7 linked regions of the Homo sapiens genome follow. The protein of the gene in region 3 purifies or fractionates together with the protein of the main gene of each other region. This does not show direct contact. Each region holds a gene or a part of one and is shown on either strand. Other genes may lie near its edges.

Evidence for each region.
Region 1: the proteins of SLC23A2 (region 3) and TMED5 purify together in Homo sapiens (affinity purification with mass spectrometry; one large-scale study listed by BioGRID and IntAct). This does not show direct contact.
Region 2: the proteins of SLC23A2 (region 3) and RASGEF1A purify together in Homo sapiens (affinity purification with mass spectrometry; one large-scale study listed by BioGRID and IntAct). This does not show direct contact.
Region 4: the proteins of SLC23A2 (region 3) and GLCCI1 purify together in Homo sapiens (affinity purification with mass spectrometry; one large-scale study listed by BioGRID and IntAct). This does not show direct contact.
Region 5: the proteins of SLC23A2 (region 3) and COA1 purify together in Homo sapiens (affinity purification with mass spectrometry, with the first as the bait; one large-scale study listed by BioGRID). This does not show direct contact.
Region 6: the proteins of SLC23A2 (region 3) and SCFD1 purify together in Homo sapiens (affinity purification with mass spectrometry; one large-scale study listed by BioGRID and IntAct). This does not show direct contact.
Region 7: the proteins of SLC23A2 (region 3) and SEC62 purify together in Homo sapiens (affinity purification with mass spectrometry; one large-scale study listed by BioGRID and IntAct). This does not show direct contact.

What each region holds. Positions count from the first base shown.
Region 1 is NC_000001.11:93,152,914-93,156,413, forward strand, and holds part of TMED5 (transmembrane emp24 domain-containing protein 5 isoform 1 precursor), read right to left. Parts: coding exon 3,387-3,500; exon of another isoform or gene 3,345-3,386; intron 3,172-3,344; coding exon of another isoform or gene 3,123-3,171; intron 1,976-3,122; coding exon 1,757-1,975; 3' UTR 1-1,756. UniProt on the Homo sapiens protein: Potential role in vesicular protein trafficking, mainly in the early secretory pathway. Required for the maintenance of the Golgi apparatus; involved in protein exchange between Golgi stacks during assembly.
Region 2 is NC_000010.11:43,201,066-43,204,565, forward strand, and holds part of RASGEF1A (ras-GEF domain-containing family member 1A), read right to left. Parts: intron 2,803-3,500; exon of another isoform or gene 2,657-2,802; intron 2,618-2,656; exon of another isoform or gene 2,547-2,617; intron 2,356-2,546; coding exon 2,233-2,355; intron 881-2,232; coding exon 743-880; intron 1-742. UniProt on the Homo sapiens protein: Guanine nucleotide exchange factor (GEF) with specificity for RAP2A, KRAS, HRAS, and NRAS (in vitro). Plays a role in cell migration.
Region 3 is NC_000020.11:4,855,185-4,858,510, reverse strand, and holds part of SLC23A2 (solute carrier family 23 member 2), read left to right. Parts: intron 1-1,306; coding exon 1,307-1,539; 3' UTR 1,540-3,326. UniProt on the Homo sapiens protein: Sodium/ascorbate cotransporter. Mediates electrogenic uptake of vitamin C, with a stoichiometry of 2 Na(+) for each ascorbate.
Region 4 is NC_000007.14:8,073,296-8,076,795, forward strand, and holds part of GLCCI1 (glucocorticoid-induced transcript 1 protein), read left to right. Parts: intron 1-3,500.
Region 5 is NC_000007.14:43,646,024-43,649,523, forward strand, and holds part of COA1 (cytochrome c oxidase assembly factor 1 homolog), read right to left. Parts: exon of another isoform or gene 3,416-3,500; intron 2,630-3,415; 5' UTR 2,592-2,629; coding exon 2,577-2,591; intron 1,612-2,576; coding exon 1,512-1,611; coding exon of another isoform or gene 1,435-1,511; exon of another isoform or gene 449-1,434; intron 1-448. UniProt on the Homo sapiens protein: Component of the MITRAC (mitochondrial translation regulation assembly intermediate of cytochrome c oxidase complex) complex, that regulates cytochrome c oxidase assembly.
Region 6 is NC_000014.9:30,667,319-30,670,818, reverse strand, and holds part of SCFD1 (sec1 family domain-containing protein 1), read right to left. Parts: intron 564-3,500; coding exon 424-563; intron 1-423. UniProt on the Homo sapiens protein: Plays a role in SNARE-pin assembly and Golgi-to-ER retrograde transport via its interaction with COG4. Involved in vesicular transport between the endoplasmic reticulum and the Golgi.
Region 7 is NC_000003.12:169,987,307-169,990,806, reverse strand, and holds part of SEC62 (translocation protein SEC62), read right to left. Parts: intron 2,568-3,500; coding exon 2,448-2,567; intron 1-2,447. UniProt on the Homo sapiens protein: Mediates post-translational transport of precursor polypeptides across endoplasmic reticulum (ER). Proposed to act as a targeting receptor for small presecretory proteins containing short and apolar signal peptides.

The sequences.
Region 1 (3,500 bases), on a different chromosome or scaffold from region 3:
ATATACGGCATTTACCTCATTTTTAAAAACCTTGCCAGTAGGGAAATCTAAGCTGCTCTTCTCCCAGGGGCCTAAGAGGGAAATGTATCTCTTTTTATACTACTATGAGTGTAAATGAAATCACTCTCTGGTTATCATTATTGCTCATCAAGAATTCCAGCATTACTAACCTGTTGAGGGGTTCTATACCCCAAATTTTAAGTTTGTTTCTAACTCACAATGTAGTCATAAACAACGTTATAAATGGGCATAACTTAAAAATTATAGTTCATTCATGATGAAGTTAAATTACTAGTACTTGAGTAAGACCCCCATAGACTTCAAAAAGCTAGATGGCAGAAACTTTGTTGTATATATGGGTTATTCACATTTAGGTGTTTAAAACTTGGGAGTCTATGTTTCTAATCCTTACTTCAACATCAATAAATAAAGTGTTCAGAAAGGCCATTTTAATAAAAGTTGTTATAATAAAAATTTTTAATAAATATGTACACCCAGTGCTAAACCTTACAGTAGGGCTTACATTTTATAAAATGTACCTGCTTACAAAAATAATTCAAACCAGAATTCTTGTAGAAAATAAAAACCTACAGCCAAAGTTTCTTCCAGCTAACTGGAAATTAATCATCTCCTTTGATTTATGTTATGAGTAGGATGTCATGATGAGCCAGTCAGATTCTAGATATTTATTTATAGTTCTACTTAAGTGAATTTTATTTTGGATTAGGTTTTCTCAAGTTTTTCTAAATTCTTTCCTGTTTCTGATAATTCTTAGAGCTCAGAAAAGGAGATATTTATTTATGGTAGGCCCAGATCATTTTAGCAATATTTCCTTCATAACTGCTGGTAATAATGAATTATCCAAGTCAGCAATCATGTTAAAATTAACATAACATGATTATTAACTGTTGACAGATATTAACTTGACAGATACTATTAAAAATAAACTTATTTTACCTCACATTTAATTTTAAAATCCTACACTTTAGTTAAGGGTTAGAGAAAATGTGTCCCTATGGAGGAGGAAGCTTTTAAACTATATTCTTCATTTCAAAGAGAAAACATGTCCTAATTTTAGTAAGTGTAACTTTGTGTTTTTAAGAATCGTGAAAATGTCAGCTTTTGGGAATGTAAGCAAAGTACAAAGACTAATGCTTTCTGCTAATATGTTACACTGAAATGTATTTGGTTATAAAAATCTCAAAAACCTAATTGTATTTCAAAGCTATTATTCTATTTACATTATAGGAGAGATGCATATGTAAATAGAGAAAAGTTGGGCTTTTGTAGTCTAAAGATTTATTCAATCCATCATTAGGTAATTCTCAGGTGATTTATAACTTAAAACTGAAAACTTCCACAGTTAATTTGTAACTGCCGCATTTACAAAAAAGTTCTGGGTAATAGAACCTGTTAAAAACAGACTGGTGTTGCAATTAGGCCCAATACTCATTTATTTAAATCACCTAAGACATTTGCAAAATTTTTCAAAGTTAGGAAAATGCAGTTATTAATATGGCTTCATTCAGTTAAACCTATATTCTGCAAAATATTCCTGTTACACACTTAAGTACAACTGGATCAGCAGGATTACTTGCACAGAAAGTGAAGACTTAATTTTCACATTAAAATTATACCTGTTTCCTACTTTTATATCTCAAAATATTTTGGAGAAGACCATTAATGGTCTTGACTGTAACAGTTTATTGCATTTTTATGCCTCATTTTTCAATGTTACGTACTCTAGTTTGGAGTTTTAAGTTCTACTTTTCCTCTTATCTTCAAACAGACTCTTCAGCATATAAACTTGAATGGCTGACACCACCACCATGACCACTAAATTAACCATAGACCAGAAATTGACTCTATCAAAGTTGCTTTCTTGTATGTTTCGATCACGAGCTTCAAATGCTCTAAGCAGAGTTTGTATGTGCCCACTTTTGCTTAGTCTGGACTTGATGCTGTTGATGGATTCCTGGAGATAAATAAAATAATTTTATTATTAAAGAATGCTCAGAAATTTTAACTTAATTAAAAAATGAGGCTGGGTGCAGTGACTCATGCCTTGTAATCCTGGAACTTTGGGAGACTAGGGCAGGAGGACCCCTTGAACCCAGGAGTTCAAGACTGGGCTGGACAACACAGACAGACTCTGCCTCTACAAAAAGATGGGTATGGTAGCACCAAGTGTGGTCCCAGCTACTTGGGAGGCTGAGGTGGGGGGATCACTTGAGTCCAGGAGGTTGAGATTGCAATGAGCCATAATGGTGCCACTGCACTCCAGCCTGGGCAACAGAGTGAGTGAGACCCTGTCTCAAAAAAAGTTTTTTTCAAAATATGCTTTATGTTTTTTATCCAAACACAATTTTAAGTTAGATGGCTGCACAATTCAATTAAAGGGCAGGTACTATTTATATTACATTAGAGATTCTCTGTAAGGTTATATAATAGTTCTCCTGACATATTTATATTGTTTATAAGTAGTTATTTAACAAGGGAACAAAGCTACTGTGAATTGAAAATAGGTAACATGAAATTATTCTGAGTGGCATAGCATCAGGAGTTTTACGTACATTATCTCTTTCTTAGTCCTCACACAACCAAAGGAAATGACTAAGGTTTTTTTTTTTTTTTTTTTTGTCGGGGGATGGAGTTTGCCTAGGCACAATCTCGGCTCATTGCAACCTGAGACTGTGCCTGGTCAAATGATTAAGTTTTTAGAGATGGGGTCTTGCTATATTGGAGTGTAGTATCTATTTATATGTGTGACCATGGTTCACTGCAGCCTTGAACTGGGCTCAAATGATCCTCCCCCTAACCTTCTGAGTAGCTGGGATTACAGGTACCTGCTACCATGCCTGGCAAATGATTTCATTTTTAAAAACCCAATTGATATAACTTTAGGTATTTACCTATTACATAATGCATGTGTTTATAATATTTCCTTCTTTGTATGTTTATCTGAACAATTTAGTATTCAGTAAAACACCCAATGTTTTAATACCACAAAATAGTTGTGAAATTAGAAAACATTTTACTTTTCATATGCCTGCTGTATAATCAGAAGCATAATCTATTTATAATTTAAAAATTCTAACTGCACATTTATAAAACAAACTTACCAAGATGCAGTCTTATTTGCACATCTGAAGCTATTTTTATAATAGGGTCCTGGAAGATAAGTTATTTGAAAACTATAAAAGGGCTATATTAATATAAAATAAAATTAAGCTGATACTTGAGGTCAAAGTATTTATGGCAAAAATAAAATATTAGAAACAGATTTTCCTGGATAATGCAGATAAAATGCTTAGTTCAGTAACTTATTACCATAGTAAGGCCTCTGGCTGTTAATAATTTTTATTTTATTAGAAGACCATACTGACCAGGATGTCTTCCAGTTTCATATCCAATATATCTGTGCCAGTAATATATTTCTTCCAATCTTCTTGTTCTTGTGCCTGTTCTCCCATATTATCCAGGATTAATTCAAAGAAAAT
Region 2 (3,500 bases), on a different chromosome or scaffold from region 3:
TGAGGACTGCTGAGGAGGGGTCTCAGTGGGCTGTCCTGCTGCAGGACGAGGCTAAGGGCAGAGACAGGCTCAAGACTGAGCTTCTGGGTCTGAAAAGCATGGCTTTTTCAGAGGCGGCCCACTGAGCTGCTTCCTGAAGCAGGAGCAGCCCATAGAACAGTTTAAGGCATGGGAAAGGCTTCTGCCAAAGCCAGGAGTCTCTGCCCCCTAGTTGGGAGCAGCCTGGGGTCCCTGGCTCCTCCTGGAGTACTCGGGGTGAACAGGAGCTGCTAAGCACAGGGAATGCTTCCACTGTGGAGGCCCAGTTGGCCCAGGCATCTCCAGTTCTCTCTCCACCAAAGGCAAAGGTGAAGACATTTGAAAAATGGGAGACCGGTTTAAAGCCTTACCCCCACCTCCTCTCACTAATCCAAGACAGGCAGAGCCTTACAAACTCTCAATAGGCTCCCACTCCAGGGACAAGGACAGCAAGGGCCAGGAGAGGGTTGAGACAATGATTGCCAGGCCCGCAACCGGGCTGCAAGGTCCCTGCTTGCAGTATCATGGGTGACCCTGGCCCACTGCTGGCCAGCTGAGCTGTCATCTGGGGGAAGGGAGGTTGAATGGGGCCAGCCAGCAACCCTCCTGGGGGAGTAACATGGAAGGGGACCACATACAGAGTTGTCCCCGAAGCCCCCACCCTCCCGAGGGCAGACCCTGGCACACACCCAAAGACCCTGGCCAGAGCCCAGGGAGCACTCACCTCATCACACTGGGTGACACGGTGTGTGATGGCTTTCAGCTCGGCCATGGCCTTCTCATCCTGGAAGTCATAGGGGAAGGCCTCGGTCCACTCCTTCAGGAGCTGCACGATCTTGGCTGAGAAAGACTTCAGCTTGGCCTGGGGCAGCAGGGGATACAGAGTAAGGCCCCACAGGGCAGAGTAGGGTACTAGATGGCAAATGGTGCAAGCTTCCCACATCCCCAAGCCACACCCCAGGCCCTGTGCTGGGCACAGCCCCCAACTGCGTGCCACCTGCGGTTTGGCCAAACCTGAACCGCCACATGACTCCTGTTTGGTTCCTTCTTCCTTCCCCTTAAGTTGACTTTCTTTTTCACTTAAATAAACTTATATTAAAAAAACCCACCCCATCTCTAAGGTGACAAAAAACTAATTCCATTTGCTATAATTAGAAGTTACCCATAAAAGCAATACAGTAAAATAACCCAAGCCAAGCCATCCAGTTAGAGGAGAGCTCCCGTCTGCCCCCTGTGGTTGAAAGGGCGACAGCGCTGAAAGGGGTGTGACCCCGAGGGGAGGCGACGCGCTCCCGCGCCCTAGTCCACAGGCATGCACGACCCCACCCAGCACAGGGCCTAGGGCATGGGGACTGGCCCTCTTGGCTGAAACGACTCCGACCCTCTCGGAAGATGCCCGCGCGGCCTCTGCCCCCGGGGAGAGGGGACTGTGCCCGATGCTCAGGCGCCGCGCCCCCATCCTCCAATCCCCCAGAACGCACCACAGGCCAAGCCCCTCCTGCGCCAGCCAAGACTCCGCGCCAGCCCACACCAGCCCCACTCAGACCGCTGGACCCCGCCCCCGGCCCCCGCACCACCCAGCCCGCAACTCTGCAGCTTTCTTCGCCCACGCCGCACAGCCTCCAAACCAGCGGATTCCGCCCACGTTGCCAGCCTAGGCCCCCCACCACCCGCTCCCACCACGCCCCTAACCCGGACCCAACCCACAGCTCCAGCCCAGACCTCACCCCAGCCTGGTGTGGCGTCACGCCCCAACTCAGACCCGCCCCACAGCCCCAGCCAGGCCACGCCCCAACCCTAGCCCTGACCCCGCCCCCAGGCCCCACCAGCCCAGCCAGGCCATGCCTAACCCTAGCACTGACCCTGCCCCGAGACCCCACAGCCCCAGCCAGGCCACGCCCCAACCCTAGCCATGACCCCGCCCCCTGGTCCCACCCTGGACCCCACCCTGCAGCCCCAGCTAGGCCACGCCCAACCCTAGCCTTGACCCCGACCCTGCCCCAGCCAGGCCACGCCTCAACCCTAGCCCTGACCCCACCCCCTGGCCCCACCCTGGACCCCATCCCACAGTCCCAGCCAGGCCAAGCCCCAACTCTAGCCCTGACCCCATCCCCCAGCTCTACCGTGAACCCCGCCCCATGCCTCCAGCCCCTAGCCTTGACCTCGCCTCCTGCCCCCTGCCCCCGCCCGTGCCCCAGCCAGGCCCCGCCTCACCTTTTCAGGCCCGGCTTCCAGCTGCTGCTTCTGCTCCACGCAGATCTGCCCCACGCGGGCCAGCAGGTCATGAGGGGGCATAAAGACCCGGGAGCTCAGGAGAAAGGTGAAGATGTACGTCCTCTGAAGGCAGGAGACGGAGAGAGGGCGGAGGGAGGGTGAGGCAGGCCCCCGGGGGCTCACCGCGCTGCTTCACCTGGCCCGGCTGCCTCCCAGGCCCAGCACCGCCGGTCCCGAGGCCATGCCTTCACCTGCCCGGTTCCCTTCGCCTTGCAGGCCCTTCCTCCTCTTACTGCTACCCCGGCCCTGCCTACCTAGGAGGCACGGCTCGAGCCCCGCCTCCCAGCAGCTCTCCCAGGCCTCCTAGCAGTCTTCCTCCGCTGGGATTCTCCCCCTCTCTGCCCCACGCCACCATAGGGCTAACCCCAGCCTGGGACGTTGGTAGGGCTCCATGGTGCTCGCTGCGCCAGGATGCAAGCCAGCTGCTGTTTCAGATCCTCGTGGGCCGAGCTGGAGGTCAGCGGTGGGGAGGGTGGGGGATGCAGGGAGGTTGGCACAGGAGCGGGGCCTGTCGGGAGCAGGGCTGATCCATGGGGCGGGGCCTCATCAGCAGGGGCGGGGCCCCATCAGCAGGGGCGGGGCCCCATCAGCAGGGGCGGGGCCTCAGGGGCAATGCTGGTGGGGGCCCCTGCACTCTCTGACCAGCTCTGGGCCTAGACCCTGACTGCCAGAGCAGGGCCCCTCCATACCACATCCACGTGCCTTCCATCGAGATCCTCGTGGGCTGGGTTCTTGGGCCTTTTGTCTAATGAGGGTCAATGTCTGTGGGAACTTCACTCTAGCTCCTGCTTGTGGACAGGGTAGACTTGCAGGTTGAGGAGACTGCCTAGGGCTTCCTAGAGGGACTCTGCCCCACGTGGCTGCTGCAGGCTGGGCTGCCCAGAAGCCTCTGCCTCCACTCCCAGCCCATATAACCCGGTTTTTCTTGCCCCAGCCAGAAGCAAGCCAGGTTGTGCTTGCTGGGAGTACAGGCCTCCTGGAGCAGGACTCAGGGGCCTGGGCTGACACTGCCCACCGCAGCCCTCCCTGGAGCATCAGGGACTCCTCTAACATCCTGCAAACTTCCCACACCCTGCCCCAGGCTATGCAGCATGGCGAATTGAGGGGTCAGAACCAGCACATCTCTCAGGGTCCCCCTTCTAAGGAGACAACTAAGACGTGGAGGAAAGGCCCACCATGGAGCTCTTGGCCAAGGGCAGGGCACCCAA
Region 3 (3,326 bases):
TGGGGAAACCAAGGCAGAAGGAATCACACACACAAATAGATGGAAGGCACTGGATTTAAGAGTCCATAACGACTACTCTCTTTCTCTCCTAAGCCAGAGGGAATTGAGAGAGGGATGCAACAGTCAGGCTGATGGAAATTAAAGTCAGCTTTATTTCTGAAATACTGATGAGAGAGCAGAGCTTAGATATAAAAAAAAGTCATGAGCTTCCTTGCTGAGCCCTGTGTGCTCAGAGCTTCCTCCCTGACCCATCTGTCAGGGTGCAGAGTGGCCAGGAGTGTCCAACCGGTGGATGTTCATCCCCGCAGAAGCACAACAGGTACATGACCTGTGTGTCCCCCATAGCACCAGACACGCTAAAATGGAGCAAAGCAGCATGAAGTGTGGGTCTGTCTAGATGGGGGGGTGAATGTGCAGTGACTGGTTGATGAAGGCATTGTGTGATACAATAAAGATTCAGCCCTGTTTTGCAAACTCAGATTTGCATTTTAAAGAGGTTTTTTTTTGACTCAGATTTACATTTTACAGAGTTTGTTTTGTGTGTTTTGTTGTTTGTTTTGTTTTGTTTTGTTTTGTTTTTAAGACAGAGTCTTGCTCTGTTGCCCAGGCTAGAGTGCAATGGCATGATCTCAGCTCACTGCAGTCTCTGCCTCTCGGGTTCAAGCAATTCTCCTGTCTCAGCCTCCTGAGTAGTTAAGATTACAGGCATGCACCACCACGCCCAGCTAATTTTTGTATTTTGAGTGGGGACGGGATTTCACCATGTTGGCTAGGCTGGTCTCGAACTCCTGACTTCATGTGATCCTCTCACCTCGGCCTCCCAAAGTGCTTGGATTACAGGTGTGAGCCACCACACCTGGCCTAGAGAGGTAGTTTTTGAGCAGACCTGGGGCAGGAGGTGATGAGCCAGAAGACTAGGTAACCAGATGGGAGACCGATAGAATGAACCAGGAAAGCAATAACATGGCCTGAGCTGGGCCCTAACAGTGAAAATTGAGAATATGGGTCACATAGAAGGATAGGGAGGTCAGAAGGTCATTAGGTGATTGCTTGAATGAGGACATGGAGGGGTTAGTGCTTCTTAGACTTCTGGTTTGGGCACTGGATAGCTGAGCACCTTCACCTCCTCAAGTATTCTTTGCTGTTATCTAGGCAGGTTTGATCTGTGGGACCATGTGTGTGTGTGTGTGTGTGTGTGTGTGTGTGTGTGTGTGTGTGTGTGTGTGTATGTGTTTGACGACAGTTTCATTTTCAGTAGAGCTGCTAAACGAAGCATTCCTTTGTTCTATCTTGGGATGTGTGACAGGCACTCCAGAGGAAAGAGGAATCCGGAAATGGAAGAAGGGTGTGGGCAAAGGGAACAAATCACTCGACGGCATGGAGTCGTACAATTTGCCATTTGGCATGAACATTATAAAAAAATACAGATGCTTCAGCTACTTACCCATCAGCCCAACCTTTGTGGGCTACACATGGAAAGGCCTCAGGAAGAGCGACAACAGCCGGAGTTCAGATGAAGACTCCCAGGCCACGGGATAGCCTTTGCTGTGCCCTGTGGCCTGGCCGCAGTGAGGCATGTATCTGTAGTTCCTTGCTGAGTAACAAGAAGTAAAATACATGTTTGTATATCTACATTTACATTCTGCGCCCCAGAGCTAAGACAGACTGCGAATCACTTTTCTGCTGTGAGGGTGATGGTGCCTGATGCGGTGTCTCGCCTATCTCCTTATTTAAGCCCTTAACTCCTTGCCCTTTGAGAGTGTCCATTGCTGGCCATGGTCACTAAATTTGAAGTTCCAGTCCTCCCTTTGGAGTGGACATTTAAAATCTGCAGCCATTCCTTGCTTCAGTTCCCTTCCACCACCCAGGGCTGGCTTTCCTATAAGCCACCTCCAGGGTCCAGGGGCTTTCTCTCTCTCTCCGAAGCCCCTGGACCTGTTTCCTTGTCATTTGACCCTCGTCTGTGCCCGCGGAGACCTCCTCTGACCAAGGGGCACTAGTATGCCTTGCGCTATCATGACTGACTGGCCCAGTATGATTCTGTTGTCGCTGATCTCCCGGAGGAGGAGGCTGTTGACCTGAAAACAGTGGCGTGGCTCCCCTGTGCCCAGATCTGGCCATGGGTGAGGCCTGCACAGATGTTGAATGAACATCTGTTTGGGGCATTGGAGGGAAAAGGAAAGGACCCTGAAGCCAATATCTGATTCTCGGCTGCACCTTCTCTTGGCCACCCTGGCCCTGACCGGGCCAGCACGTGCACACTGGCCTCTTTTCATTTCACTAGTGGCCGAGACACCCTCTCTGGCATTTATCACTGTTGGCCGGTGTGATGAGTATAGAGTGCCACCCAAGGCACCAGTCACACAAGCTGATGGGCGTCTTGGCTCTGCCGTCATGTGGATGTTATTGTCGCGCGCGTCTATAATTACAAGGTTTTATTCCTATTTAATGTTATTGACTATAGCAGATTTTGGAAATCAGTGTTTTCCATGTGACCCTCTTTCCTTGCATCCCTATTCCTTGTCCCCCACCCACTCTTCCCCCCATCAAGAAAAGAACCAGCATTTGTAAAGCTGTGGACACCATCAGGGAAGCTTGTTGTAACGGCTTTTGAAGGCCAGTAACCATTGTTGTGGTTGTGTTTTGTATTGCTTGATACCATGAAAGTGTAAATACTGTAATGCCTAATCTATTTATCAAAACTGACTACTGGACCGGAGCCCAGAAACCATGGGTCAAGTTACACGTGAATTTGTTTTGTGAAGAAGGGAAGCTGGGGCAGGTAACACGCAGAGCCGCCACGTGGAACGGTCTGTCCGCCGGTCTGTCCCGCTTGCCGGGCTTCTGTTGCAAGTCTTGGCTTAAGGAGACTTCCTGTGGGTTGCCATGTCGCACGTCCGTTAGATCTTGATTTTACAGGTGAGGGTGGTTGCCAAAGGTGATAAGAAAAGCAGCCAACAGGCTCCCTCTCACTTAAGAGAGTTCTAATTAATAACACTAAATTCTTCCTGAGAAATGACTCCTCTTGGTTTGGTTTGAAGTTTTTCAGTGAAGGAAAAGGCCTGAGATAGGAAGCAGTGCCCTCGCTTCATGAGGTGGCACATCTTCGGTGGCCGTTGGCCTGGTCGAGCTTTGGTCAGCTGCGTGGGTGCCTGTCTCCTGTCTCCAGCGGCAGGGCATGGTTCTTGGCAGCCTGGTGTCCACACGGTGCATTCCTGTCCCCCTCGGCCCCAGGCTGGCTCAGCTCTCCAGTGCTGCGGCGCTGTCTTTGCAGCATTGCCATGTCACCGTAGCCCCCTTCACTCTTGGAAGTTTGGGGCTTCAAG
Region 4 (3,500 bases), on a different chromosome or scaffold from region 3:
TATCAATTATTTAATACACAGCTTAGTCAAAACCTCCTTCCCTAGCCTAGTTTGTGTCAATTATCTAATAAGATGAATTCTGACCATTTCTTAGACAGATTAGACCTTTTCCTAAGTTTGCCTTTGTTGGTATATTTTCCTCTGTGCCCTTTTGTTCCTACATACCAGATATCTGCCTGCATAACACTAATTTCTTTATATTCATCCTCTTGTTTTTTTAATATGTAAAATGAGAACATTGGTTCAGATCATCTCTAAAGCTAAGGTTTTTTTCCTAATAGTTAAAAAATATTTCTTAGTAAAATAGGGTAATAATACCTTCCTCATATCATTGAGGTTACATGAGATACAGCAAAATGCTTAGCACAACTTATTGGCACATGGCAAACAATTAGTGGTGATGAATGTTGCTTAATAGTGATTTTTTTAAAATCTCTTTAGAAGTTATATAGAATGGGTTTCAGAATTATTTAAGACATTTCTCTGTTTTCTACAAGATCACCTCAGTTTGAGAATTAAAGCCCCATGACATCAGTTTCATAATATCTACCATATTTAGCTGAGAGGCATTACTTTGTGATTAAGATCAAGTTGATGTTACTACTCCCTGGAAAACTGTGTAGCTCTCTGTTATGCAATACAAGGTTTCTAGTTCTCAAATCAAATACCATCTTTATAAAGAGAAAATTAAAATAGCACCTATCCCTTTTATATATGTAACTATGCACACATGGGTGTGTTAGAATTGGGAGTTGAGGTTTATGTATTTCAACTGAGGTTATACTTCTAGTTTATTTAAGGAACACTTATTGAGCATTTATTGTATGTCAGATATTGTACTGGAGAGTGGAGAAATAGAGATGAATAATATGTGATATCTGTCTTTAAGGAATTTATAGTGTAGTAGGGAGTAATTAGGAATGTAAACAAATAATACACTATTATAAATACACTATTATACAGTGATGTTTAGAATACTAAAAGTGTAAAGGAGGGAGTTGTCCAGAAATTTTACAATTTCTGGAACTAATATATGTCATTCAAACTGTAGGCTAGTTTCTGACTCATTTCTTCTTTATGTAAGGCCCAAACTCTGGGTTTTGCTATTTTTAAATATACTAATTATTTCTGTGATCCCAGCATTTTGGGAGGTCAAGGCGGGCAGCTCACTTGAGGTCAGGAGTTAAAGACCAGCCTGGCCAACATAGTGAAACCCCATCTCTACTAAAAATACAAAAAGTTAGCCAGGTATGGTGGCATGCAGCTGCAGTCTCAGCTAATTAGGAGGCTGAGACAAGAGGATCACTTGAACTTGGGAGGTGGAGGTTGCAGCAAGCCGAGATCACGTCACTGCATTCCAGCCTGGGCAACAGAGCAAGAGTCCATCTCAAAAAAAAGATACTAATTCTTTCCTATAATGTATGTTTTCTACAATAAATCATAAATTGGTGTTTTTTTATTAAAGACATAAAAGGAAGCTGTATAGCTTTCCTAGAGCTTTTCATCATTATGAAAACAGAATTAATTATATAATTTTGAAGTCAACTAGGATTGATTTGATTTGGAGTACCTACATGTTCTGCAGTTGCTGTGGAGAGATTTGTTCTGTGGTAGAGTAACTAGTTCAGACATCTGTAGGAGCCTGGATAGACATGGAGGGGAGAGGGATAGCTGCAGTGAATAGCTGCCCTAATGAGGGATGTGCTGGTGAGCTGATTATTTTTCTAGTATTCATTTTATATACGTATTCTTTTTCTGACTTTGCTAACATCATTTTTGTGTGTTCCTAACATCTATTCGCTATGAATTATGTATAATTTGAGACCTATAAAATAATTTTGTATTATCAATGTGCATCGCACATTGGTTTTTTTCTTTGCCTGTATGGATTGTAATGCCAGGACAAAAACACTCTGTCAAGAAAGTTTCAGCTATTGAGAGACTTGTTTCAAGTGAATGGGTTTTTGGCGTTTCGTTTTGATTTTTTACTAGATTTTTCCAGTGACCTAAAGACTGAAGGGAACTTGGTCACACTGGTCACATGTGTAAAGTTTCCAGGCTAACTAATAGCCATAGGAACTACTACTGCTCTTCTCTGTGTGGAGAATTCAGAGATCCAGAATGAGAGCACTCATCTTGACATCATCAGAATGTACCCTAAGAGGTAGCTTACATTCTTCCACATTATCATACCCAAAATAAAGTTCAAGGAACAAAAATAGCCATTTATATAATACAGATGGCAGTGTCGGAATATTAGTTTCTTAAGCAGCTCTGCCAGCGTTGCTTGATGGTAGCCAAACTGGTGCTGGTTAAGCCACAAAATGTAGACTTCAGTCAGCTACTTATCATTGATCTTTGGCACAGTTCACTTATGCAGTTGTTATAAAATTCTGCAATTTTGCAGGATATTGTGGAAACATTGATTATTGTAATCATGAAATAAATGGAATCGTTTGATTCAGGCCAACTACTGAGTAGAGTTGTATTCCAAGAGTCCCTAAATTGATTACTTGTAATTTAAGCTATATTTTCCTGAAGGAACAGTGTACACTATGTGGATAGAGTTTCCCAAGCCAATGCATGTAAGCCTATTTAACTCATTCTGTGATTTAACTCATAAATATTCGTATTGCTAAACTTTTAGTGTTAGGACTGAGCCTCCCTTGGTCTTAGGAGAAAAAAATCAAAAGTATTAATTTTGTCTTTTCAGGGTCTAGGGTTGACCCTAGGCAGACTTTTGAAACAGACTGCTTTTGGCATCTTCCTATTCCTTTATACGTATATTTTAACATACTTGTATTTATCTCTAGGGCTCTATTTCTTGACCTTTTTTTGACCTATGCCCTTACTATGCTTTAACCCTCTATTTTTTAGATAAATCAGCCAAGATTTTATGGCACTTTTCTTTTGGGGGTTTATATTGTAAAAGCAGATATGATGGGTATACTACTTAGAGCTACCACACCTTGAAAAATCACTGCTTTTGAATCTGGATGCGTTTATCAAAATATTCTCTTTATATGGTTCTAGGGCGCTTATTATCCTAGAAGGACCTTTTGGTGGTAAAATTACAGCATATAAAGATATTATTCCAACAAAGGAGTTAGTCTATAGGTTAAAATTGATCTATTCTAGAATTCATGTCCCTAAGGTCATTTTACCTGTCTTTCAAGAAAGCATCTTAAGATACATACATTCCAGTGTCTAACAGCACAAAATAAGTATCCAGTAAATGCTATTGTCCCTTCTTTCTGAAAATGTTAACAATTTTAACAATGGCAGATACTGTGATAGCTATGAGTTATTATTCATAATTCAAAACTACTTAAATATACAACTCAGTTTTAGCCATTATTGCTCAGTTTAGAATATAAGCAAATCAAAAATTTTTAACATACCTGCATATATATTTCACTTAATTGTTTGTCTATTTACCATGATGTTAGCTCCAACAAGAGTAAATGACCATATTTTGGTCAGTGCTTTACTCTCAGTGA
Region 5 (3,500 bases), on a different chromosome or scaffold from region 3:
GGGAAGCACCTCCCTGAAGCTGTAAGTTCTAATAATCAGCTGCCCAAAGGAGGGAGCAGAGGCAGGCTTCCCAAGCAGGGTGTTCAGTTTGGCCGCAGAAAGTGCTTCTCTTCTGAAGGTCCCATCACACTAATGAAGGGAAAGGTGACCTGACCCTGGAGAGGCCAAGGGAATCCCCCTCCTGGGCTGCTTCCCAGGAATAGGGATACAGGGAATACCACAGGCATGAACACGGTGCCAGCTATGATAGGAAAAGAAGGGACAGAAGCAGGGTCCAGACAGCTAATCTTTATTGAGTGATTTCTATGGCTAGGCACTGTTCTCAATATTCCACACATCTCACAATGTTCAACAGCTCTTGTGTTGTGAGATTCAATTCTCACCTCATACACAAGCACTAACATTACCACACATCACACCAATAAGGTAACTAATGCCCAGAAAGGTGACGGACTCCCCCATAAGGCCACATAGCTGGTCAAGAGCTGGAGCCGAGATTCAACCATTCAACCCAGGCAGTCGGCTGCAGTGCCCAGGTCTCACCGACTTAGCAGCCTCCTAAGGGAGAAAGGCTGTCACACCAGAAAGCTGAACCCTGACCCAAAAGTGCACCCATCCCTCTCATGTCCTGCCCCTGTCCCTTTGGCAGAGGGAAGAGGAGGCCAAATTATTCAGTCTGAATCATTCCTGGGAACGCTCATCTCAGGCCCCCTCCAGACTCTGCAACTCCACCAACTCTGCAGGATGGTGCAGAAAGGCTGGAGAGGACACTGGAGCCTGTCTGCTTGTCTGCTGGTGACACTCACATCCTGGGAAGAAGTGAAAATGTTGCAGAGTGGATGACGAGCCAAGCTGGGTGGGGATAAAGGAGCCTAAAAAAAGCCAGTCTAGAAAAAACTGCTGCCGCTTTGCCACCAGTAGCATTAAAATGACCTTAAATGTCCTGGCTGCTGACAGTAATTGTGGCCTGTCTTTACAAATTCAAATTTGAGTGCAGTGGGGCTGGAAGCGGCATCTGTCGGGATTTTGCCATCGTGGTCTCTGCTTTTATTTTCTGCCCCTGCCAGAGTTCCTTGCTCATGGTCCCTCCTCCATTAAATCAACAGCAGAGAATGAAAGTGCAAAAAAAGTCTGACAATGCTGGACGCACAGCCACAGCTTTCCCCACCTGTGAACCATCTGGTATTCCCCTTCCCTCTGTCCCTTCTTTATATAATCTCAGAATCTTGATGGAGCCCCTGTGTGTGCACTGGACTGAAAGCCCATCGTGCTTTGCTGGGCTTCTTATGCATATTAGTCCTGGTCCTTTTATTTGTACTCGTTGCTCCTGGAAAAACTGAGATTACAGGATACAGAGGAAGCTATAGCCAACGAAATGGTGGACTAGCCTTTAAAATCACCCTCTCCTCCTTTCTCTAATCTAAACAAAGCATCTCAAGTATTTCCTCTGATGGAGGAGCAGGAGCAGGCTAGGAGGAGGTCAGGCCGCAGGCGGCTAGCAGGATACTTACTTTGAATGAGGTAATACACAATGGCAAAGCCCCCGGCATAGAACACACCGTGGAAAAGGATCCTTGCTCCCAGAGGCATTGACCGCCTGCTTCCTGCATACTTAAAAACAAAAGATACAAATTTATTGTAGGATTCCCAGTTTTGTGCCAAGGGGATTTGCCCGGCTTGGACCCCTAAAGGAAAGAAGCATTAAGGAAGCCAGAAAGGAGGCCAGACCGCCCTCCCTCATTTGCTTCCTTTCCAAATGCCAGGGTTGGTTCTGAAGCCAAACTGAGTGCCCTCCTGAGGGTGCCCTCTCGAGAGTGGCCCATGTCCAGGACCCATGCTGTGGGGGCCCTGCCACCCCCAGCCAGCCCAGCACAGAGCGAGCATTCAGCCCACCATCCTGACAGACACAGCCCAGACTGTGTGCCAAGCCCCGCATGGCCAGGAAGCACAACCACTTTGTCTCAGGCCAACTGGTAAACAGGAAGCTTATCCTTTGTGGCAATGGCTGGTCCTGTAAGCCTGCGAATGGGCTGGAGCTGTCACTGGCTCCTTTCATATTTTGAAAAATGCACCACCCTTGGGATGAGGAAACTCTGGTTATGACTCAGGCTGAATGAACAGATGGAGGGATGCCAGCTCGGTAAATACAGCATACCATCCATCCACTCTTATAATATGTAAGAGTATCAAAATGAGTGTAAAGTTAATTACAGTAATGTGATCTGGGAAAAGTCATTTAGTTCTCATAATGAAAACGGTCAGAGCATCTCTGAAGAATGTATTAGTCAGATCTTGCTTAATTTGAAGAGAGCTCAACAGGGTGAGGCAGCCAGACTGGGTTATGGAGAGGTTCCCAGAGTGTTACAGCTTCCAACGCCAGCATGAGACACGAGAGAAAGACAGAGTGGGAAACAATGCAGAAAATGCCCATCCCTCCTGTGAAGTTAAAGCACAAGTGAACCCTAAAGACCAGGAGAAGCCCATAACTATTCAGGGAGTGACTTTCTTCTATTGTCTAACTCGAGAATACCCTGGCAGGTTCTAGTGGGGAACTTGGCCCTGGAACATTCCATTACCTTTTGCCACATCATAGCACAACTCTCTTGAAAATCATCAAAGGCAAGTTGTCCTGCAATTAGAAAAGATTTTACATTAAAATCATATTTTTAAAGCCCAGTTCTCTCTAGTCTCATACAGCCAAGATTTATTACCAACCCAAGCTTTAGAACACGAACAAGAAGTTAAAATTAAACTCTAAAACAAGCCTTGTCTGTGAAAGGCCCTGGTTTTTCCCCCTTCTGCTGCCAAATTAGGAAGAAAAAACAAAGCCTGCGGGTTTCCTGTCTGTGTCCTATGTAGTTTTTGTTACAGCAACCAAAGAACCGGTGTGCACAAGGGAGAACCGCAGACAGCAAGTGCTTTGACCACAGCACAAACACAGGGCCAATCAACAGGAGGCTGGACCTGCAGAAGCAAGATGCTAGCAATAAAAGCTGTACGTGACAGAGTGAAAACAGCACTTCAGAGTTAAAAAGAAACAATAGTACAGTAAACTTATACATGGACTTTAACAATATTGATAATACCTAATACTTCTGTCTCTGACTATTATGTGTCTTGTACTATTCTAAGCACTTTATATAATTCATTTAATTCTCACAACCCTTTGAAGTAGGAACTATTATCATCACGCTCATTTTGCAGATGAGTAAACTGAGGCACAGAAAGGTTAAGTAACATGCCCAAAGGTGCACTAATAAGTGAATAAGTGGTAGAACTGGGATTCAAATTCATGCAGTCTGGCTCCAGCATCTGCTCTTTCAACCACTGTGGTACACGAGCTTTAAGATATCTAATTAAAGCAATATTGAAATGTGAAAACAAACAGTGTCTCTGAGCTAAAATATATTCTTACTGTTCAGTGTAAAAGTCCTTGGCAGGCATGCCTTTCCTGCTATTTTTCCAGACAAGGTGGATACATATTTGTACCTTCATTCCTT
Region 6 (3,500 bases), on a different chromosome or scaffold from region 3:
CTAGGCTTTTAGGCTTAGGTACTCTCTCCACAAGTATCTAAAACAAGGTTTACATGAGGGCAACATGTAACAAAAAGGAAAAAATCACCCCCAAAATCACAAAAGCCAATTTAAATGAAAGGCAGAGATGGTCTTATAGAGTCAGTGGAGACAGCAACAAAATTGAAAAAGACTATCTGTATAGGATGATCTCATTGAAAGGAGAAGCGGTCCCTATAAAACAACAATGAACAAAAAACAACTTAGGAATCAGTGAGAAATGGAGAAATAAAGACAAATATCTACAGACTATCTAATTACAGCCCCCACTCATTGGGTGAACGAACCTACATGACCCTTTTTTTTCTCAAATTCATTAAGGTGGATGACACCTTAATTTCTCTTTAAAAAAATGAATCTTTTACTTATTGATATTTTGCTTACCTTCCTTTATGTTTTTGCCAAAATTTATCAACCGGAGTTAAATCATAAGACTTCTTGTTTTTTCTCTTTGGTCTAGCACCAGCTGGAGAGTTTTCCACTCCTGAAGATTCTTCCAAATTAACCCTGTTTAAATGGAAATCCTAGGAAAAAGTAATCTTGTGTTAAACAACTGTTTTCTAAGTCTAATAAAAATAGAATCTTGTTGCCCTTTCTAATGTTTCCAAGGACAAAATATAGATCTGAAATTTAAAACATCTCCTCCCAATCTTTTGTTACATACAAATGTAATTTTGTTTCTGTATTTTAATGAAAGTATTAGATGTATATTAAAATTTCAAACAAGAAAAAGAGAAAAACATGTCAATATGCTTGTGTATCCTTCTAGAAAAACATTGATGCATATAATAGCACATACACATCCTCTTAATTTTATTTTTTAAAATGGGATTACAGGGTACATGTTATATCTTTTTTCATCTAATAATACATTTTACAGCTCTTTCTGTATCTGTATATGTACATTTACTTCATCTTTATCATAACTACACAGTAGTCCAATGTTTGGCTAAATCAACTTATGCAACCAGGCCTCCTGATGCTTGGTCATTTCCAGTAACAAATGTTATCTTAAATATTTTTAAACTCTTAGAGAGTCAACATTCTGATGTGTCACTTGAGTGATGAACTGCAATTTTAAAAATTACAATAGATGCTATAATAATAAGTGATGCCCCTCTTTCACACAAACTTTAAGAGTCAGGCCAGTAGTGGCTAAACTTTCTTGCCTAGGACTAATTTTATTCACGTGAGGCTTGATTTTTGTACCTTTTCTGTAAAAAAAACCAAAAAACCCCCCAAAACCCAAAACCAAACCAAACCAAACCCACAAAAACCATTAGGCAAAAATAAAAGTAAGTATCTTTTTTCTTTCCCCCAACTTCTTGCATTACATCTATGGGTTCCCTCACAAATAGCAGCATTTTATGGTTTAATGCCAACTAAAGAATAGTGAAAGATAAAACATGACTATCAACAAGTAAATGATTGATGAAGAAGGAAGACACAGTATGGAGAAATTATCCAGCATGACTGAAATATAATTATCTTAGTTCTAAGGTATCTGTATATATTTTGAATTAATGATTATTCTAGGTCTTAGCAAATTAAATATACTGAATGCAATTCAGTCTCCTTTAGATAAAACAAGGTTATCAATACTGACTCTAGGTCCTTAACATAAACCTTGTAACTTTCTCAAATAAATCTTTTATAATAGTTTATTTCCTTGCCATTTTTCTCTTTGACATAAAAAGCAGGATTTGAAAAATTACAGATGTCTACATACCCAGTAATGGGATTGCTGGGTCAAATGGTATTTCTAGTTCTAGATCCTTAAGGAATCACCACACTGTCTTCCACAATGGTTGAACTAGTCTACACTCCCACCAACAGTGTAAAAGCGTTCCTATTTCTCCACAGCCTCTCCAGCACCTGTTGTTTCCTGAATTTTTACTGATCACCATTTTAACTGGTGTGAGATGGTATCTCATTGTGGTTTTCATTTGCATTTCTCTGATGACCAGTGACGATGAGCATTTTTTCATGTGTCTTTTGGCTGCATAAATGTCTTCTTTTGAAAAGTGTCTGTTCATATCCTTCGCTCACTTTTTGATGGGGTTGTTTGATTTTTTTCTTGTAAATTTGTTTACGTTCTTTGTAGATTCTGGTTATTAGCCCTTTGTCAGATGGGTAGATTGTAAAAATTTTCTCCCATTCTGTAGGCCGCCTGTTCACTCCGATGGTAGTTTCTTTTGCTGTGCAGAAGCTCTTTAGTTTAATTAGATCCCATTTGTCTATTTTGGCTTTTGTTGCCATTGCTTTTGGTGTTTTAGTCATGAAGTCCTTGCCCATGCCTATGTCCTGAATGGTATTGCCTAGGTTTTCTTCTAGGGTTTTTATGGTTTTAGGTCTAACATTTAAGTCTTTAATCCATCTTGAATTAATTTTTGTATAAGGTTTAAGGAAGTGATCCAGTTTCAGCTTTCTACATATGGCTAGCCAGTTTTCCCAGCACCATTTATTAAATAGGGAACCCATTCCCCATTTCTTGTTTTTGTCAGGTTTGTCAAAGATCAGATGGTTGCAGATGTGTGGTGTTATTTCTGAGGCCTCTGTTCTGTTCCACTGGTCTATATCTCTGTTTTGGTACCAGTACCATGCTGTTTTCGTTACTGTAGCCTTGTAGTATAGTTTGAAGTCAGGTAGTGTGATGCCTCCAGCTTTGTTCTTTTTGCTTAGGATTGACTTGGCAATGCGGGCTCTTTTTTGGTTCCATATGAACTTTAGTTTTTTTCCAATTCTGTGAAGAAAGTCATTGGTAGCTTGATGGGGATGGCATTGAATCTATAAATTACCTTGGGCAGTATGGCCGTTTTCACGATATTGATTCTTCCTATCCATGAGCATGGAATGTTCTTCCATTTGTTTGTGTCCTCTTTTATTTCGTTGAGCAGTGGTTTGTAGTTCTCCTTGAAGAGGTCCTTCACATCCCTTGTAAGTTGAATTCCTAGGTATTTTATTCTCTTTGTAGCAATTGTGAATGGGAGTTCACTCAGGATTTGGCTCTTTGTCTGTTATTTGCGTATAAGAATGCTTGTGATTTTTGCACATTGATTTTGTATCCTGAGACTTTGCTGAAGTTGCTTATCAGCTTAAGGAGATTCTGGGCTGAGACAATAGGGTTTTCTAAATATACAATCATGTCATCTACCAACAGGGACAATTTGACTTCCTCTTTTCCTAATTGAATACCCTTTATTTCTTTCTCTTGCCTGACTGCCCTGGCCAGAACTTCCAACACTATGTTGAATAAGAGTGGTGAGAGAGGGCATCCCTGTCTTGTGCCAGTTTTCAAAGGGAATGCTTCCAGTTTTTGCCCATTCAGTATGATATTGGCTGTAGGTTTGTCATAAATAGGTCTTATTATTTTGAGATACGTTCCATCAATACCTAATTTATTGAGAGGTTTTAGCATGAAGGGCTGTTGAATTTTGTCGAAGGCCTCTTCTGCATCTATT
Region 7 (3,500 bases), on a different chromosome or scaffold from region 3:
TTCACAAGAATATAAATATTCTGAAAGACTCCTGTACACATTAGAATCTTTCGTGGTATAAACGGAAAAGGTAAATATGCTTAAAATTATGATTTAAGAATAAATTCCACTGATAAACAGAGATAATGAATTTAAGGAGGCTGTACATTTTTTTCTCCAATTATGATGCAATGATAGGTTTTACAGGATTGTAAGACAGATGATTCATAATATGAAATCTTGTATCAAACCAAAGAAAAAGCAATATAGAAATGGCACTAACCTAATTTCTTATCACATACAAATGGTATGGCAAAATGTTCATGTTTTACAGTTTTTCGCTATGTGGCACTAGATTACCGAGAGTGAAAAGGGAAGAATTATGGGGAAGCTGTGACATGTACTATAATAACATTCCTATGCTAAAAGCGACAGATTTTAGAAAACTGCCAAAGGTTTTATTTTAAATGGCATTATTAATAATGCATATTCAAAGAAACACCAGATATAATTGTGACCAATACATAATATTTCAAGACCCTGACTTTAAAAAAAAAAATTAGCTAGGCATGGCAACATGCTCCTATAGTCCCAGCTATTCAGGAGGCTAAGGTGGGAGGGCTGCTTGAGCCCAGGAGTTTGAGGGTACAGTGAGCTATGATTCTGCCATGGTACTTTACCCTGGGCAACAGAGCAAGACCCTGTCTCCAAAAAATGAATATATATAAAAATATATTTCATATAAATATGAGATATCATATAATATATATGACATATCATATGATATATATTATATGATATATATGATATATAATATTATGATATATCATATATCTATATATCATATATATTCATATATAATATACATGATATATATTATATGCGATATACATAATATATATAAAGACTTCAAAGAATAATATAAAAGAAATATCTAATTATTTGAAAGTATATTTGGAATTGCATTTTCTAAGAGAATCAAAATAAAATGTTGGGTTTGTTTCCTGGTATAATTCAGAAGACTATTTGGTTCATAATGCATATTTAAATCCACAGCATATTTACAATGAAAATTTATTTAAAGAGACTACTGAAGAAACAATATTTTAAACAGCAAAACTACATAATAACCATAAACTATTGTGAACACTGGTTTAATTTAAAAATAAGCAAGTAGAATAATTCTATTCAGTGGAGCTAAACCTTTGCTAAAAATTTCCAAGGAGTTTCTAAATTTCAGGAATTTGAAAGGCAAAAAGCACCAATTTTATTATGTCTAATGTCAGATCAAAGTTTATGACTTTTCCTTCTTGATGCAGGTATTACACTGACACTAAATTCAAACAGGCTTAGATATTGTTTCTTGGCCTACAAATGTGCCCGTGTTCCATGCAAAACCAGCAGGGGATTTTTCTGCTGCCAGAGGTTACCAAATCAGAGGAAGGAGGCTGGGCGTGGTGGTTCACGCCTGTAATCCCAACACTTTGGGAGGCCAAGGAGGGCAGATCACCTGAGGTCAGGAGTTCGAGACTAGCCTGGGCAGAGTGATACCCTATCTCCCCCACAAAAAGCCAGGCATGATGAAATGCACCAGTACTCCTAGCTACTTGGGAGGCTGAGGCAGGAGGATTGCTTAAGCCCAGGAATTCAAGGCTGCAGTGAGCTATGATCTCACCACTGCACTTCAGCTTGGGTGACAGAGCAAGACCCTGCCTCTAAACAAATAATCTATGAAAGACCCCAATCATCCAGAAATGCGGAAAATTCATTTACTTATGTTTTCCTATTTGATTTTTAAAACATTAACTCCTTATTGCATCTAGTATTTTGGTACTTGGGTGAAAATTATTGATTTTTCCCAAAATGGCAAATCAATTGTTTAGAATCATTTATTAAATATATGCATAGATTATTTAGATGTTGCATTTGTTCTAAGTCAAAATTAAAAAATGTTTTACTGAAAGTATTATGTCTAATAAATGATCTACCACTGCAAAAATATTAAACGCCTCTGCCATAACTAATTTTTAAAGCACATCTATTTGCAGATTAAGATATAATAATGTATGGTATATTTCAAAATAAGTAAATTTCAAATGTCTCACAATAAATGATAGGCAAGAAAGGTGATCAATATGCTAATTATGTTAATTAGCTTGATTTAAACATTCCACATTGTACACATACACCAAAACATCACATTGTACCCCATAAATGTATACAATTATGATCTGTCAATAAAAAATAATCTTATTAAAAAATTTTTTTAAAGATGTATTAAATCCTTTTTCTGCAGACAGAACACATCTTACCAAGCCTGAGTTTTGAGATTTGACTCAGAAAGTAGTACCATATATTTCTTGATTTACCTCCATTAATTTTTCTTAAGCTTTACTGAAGCTCCAAATTACAGTCCAACTGCTCAATACCAACCTTCTTGAGGTCAATTTTATAATAACAATACTTACCAACAGCAAGGAGAAGAATACTGGCTACAAAACAGCCTGCACCCACACTGAGGTAATAAACACCTACTCTCATTTCTGCTGGCCAAAGGGGGAAGAGGGTGGCCGCTATTACTGCAATCACTGGAACAAGAAATGACAAAAGTTAAATTTTAGAATAAAAACTTAAATGGTATGGCTGCACTAACAGAAACATATCCCTGGGGGAAAAACTGAGAAACATAAACACAGTGAAATATAAAATTGCCATTTTTATAGGTAAAAAATGGTCAATTATGAGCAATTTCATATTGTTCAACCTAACATTTTATACTATTCTTAAACTAGTTTTTATTAGTGTAAATTACATATAATTAGAAAAAAATGCTATGTAGAAATTCAAAACTGTTGCCTCCTTAATTTATCAACTGCCCCCTTTTTCAAGCTATATCTACTTTATTTAAAAAATACTAAGATATTTGCCTACTAAGTAAGGGAGCTAAAAGAAACAACAGAACAACAAAGCCAACAAAAAATGATTTCCAAGACCCCTCTCTGGAGATTCTTCTTCTGGGGTGGAGCTCTGACATCCACAGACTGAAAGATTCCCCAGGTGATTTCTGCTACAGATGTATTTTTTGGTGCTTAGGGAAACTGTTTACAAGTGTCTCCAGTTTTTTTGCAAGTAAAGTGGGGACACAAGAAAGAATTATAAGAAATTAGAAGCCTGGTTATTAGGTCTTTAGAATAAGACCAGGATTAAAATTCTAGCTCCATCACTTATAAGCTATGTAACCCTGGGCAAGTTACTTAACTCTTTTGAGGCTAAGTTACCTTATATTTAATAAGTCTCTTCCTATTCTTCAAAGGTTGTTGTGAGGATGAAATGATATATTGTACGCAAAATATCTAGCAAAGTGACTAGTACTCTTATTATAAAAGAGTTATTTTGCTTTTTGTTTTCTGAAACAGAGTCTTACTCTGTCACCCAGGCTGCAGTACAGTGGCATGATCTTGGCTCACGACAGCCTCGACCTCCTGAGCTTAGGTGATCCTCCCACCTCAGCCTTCTAAGTA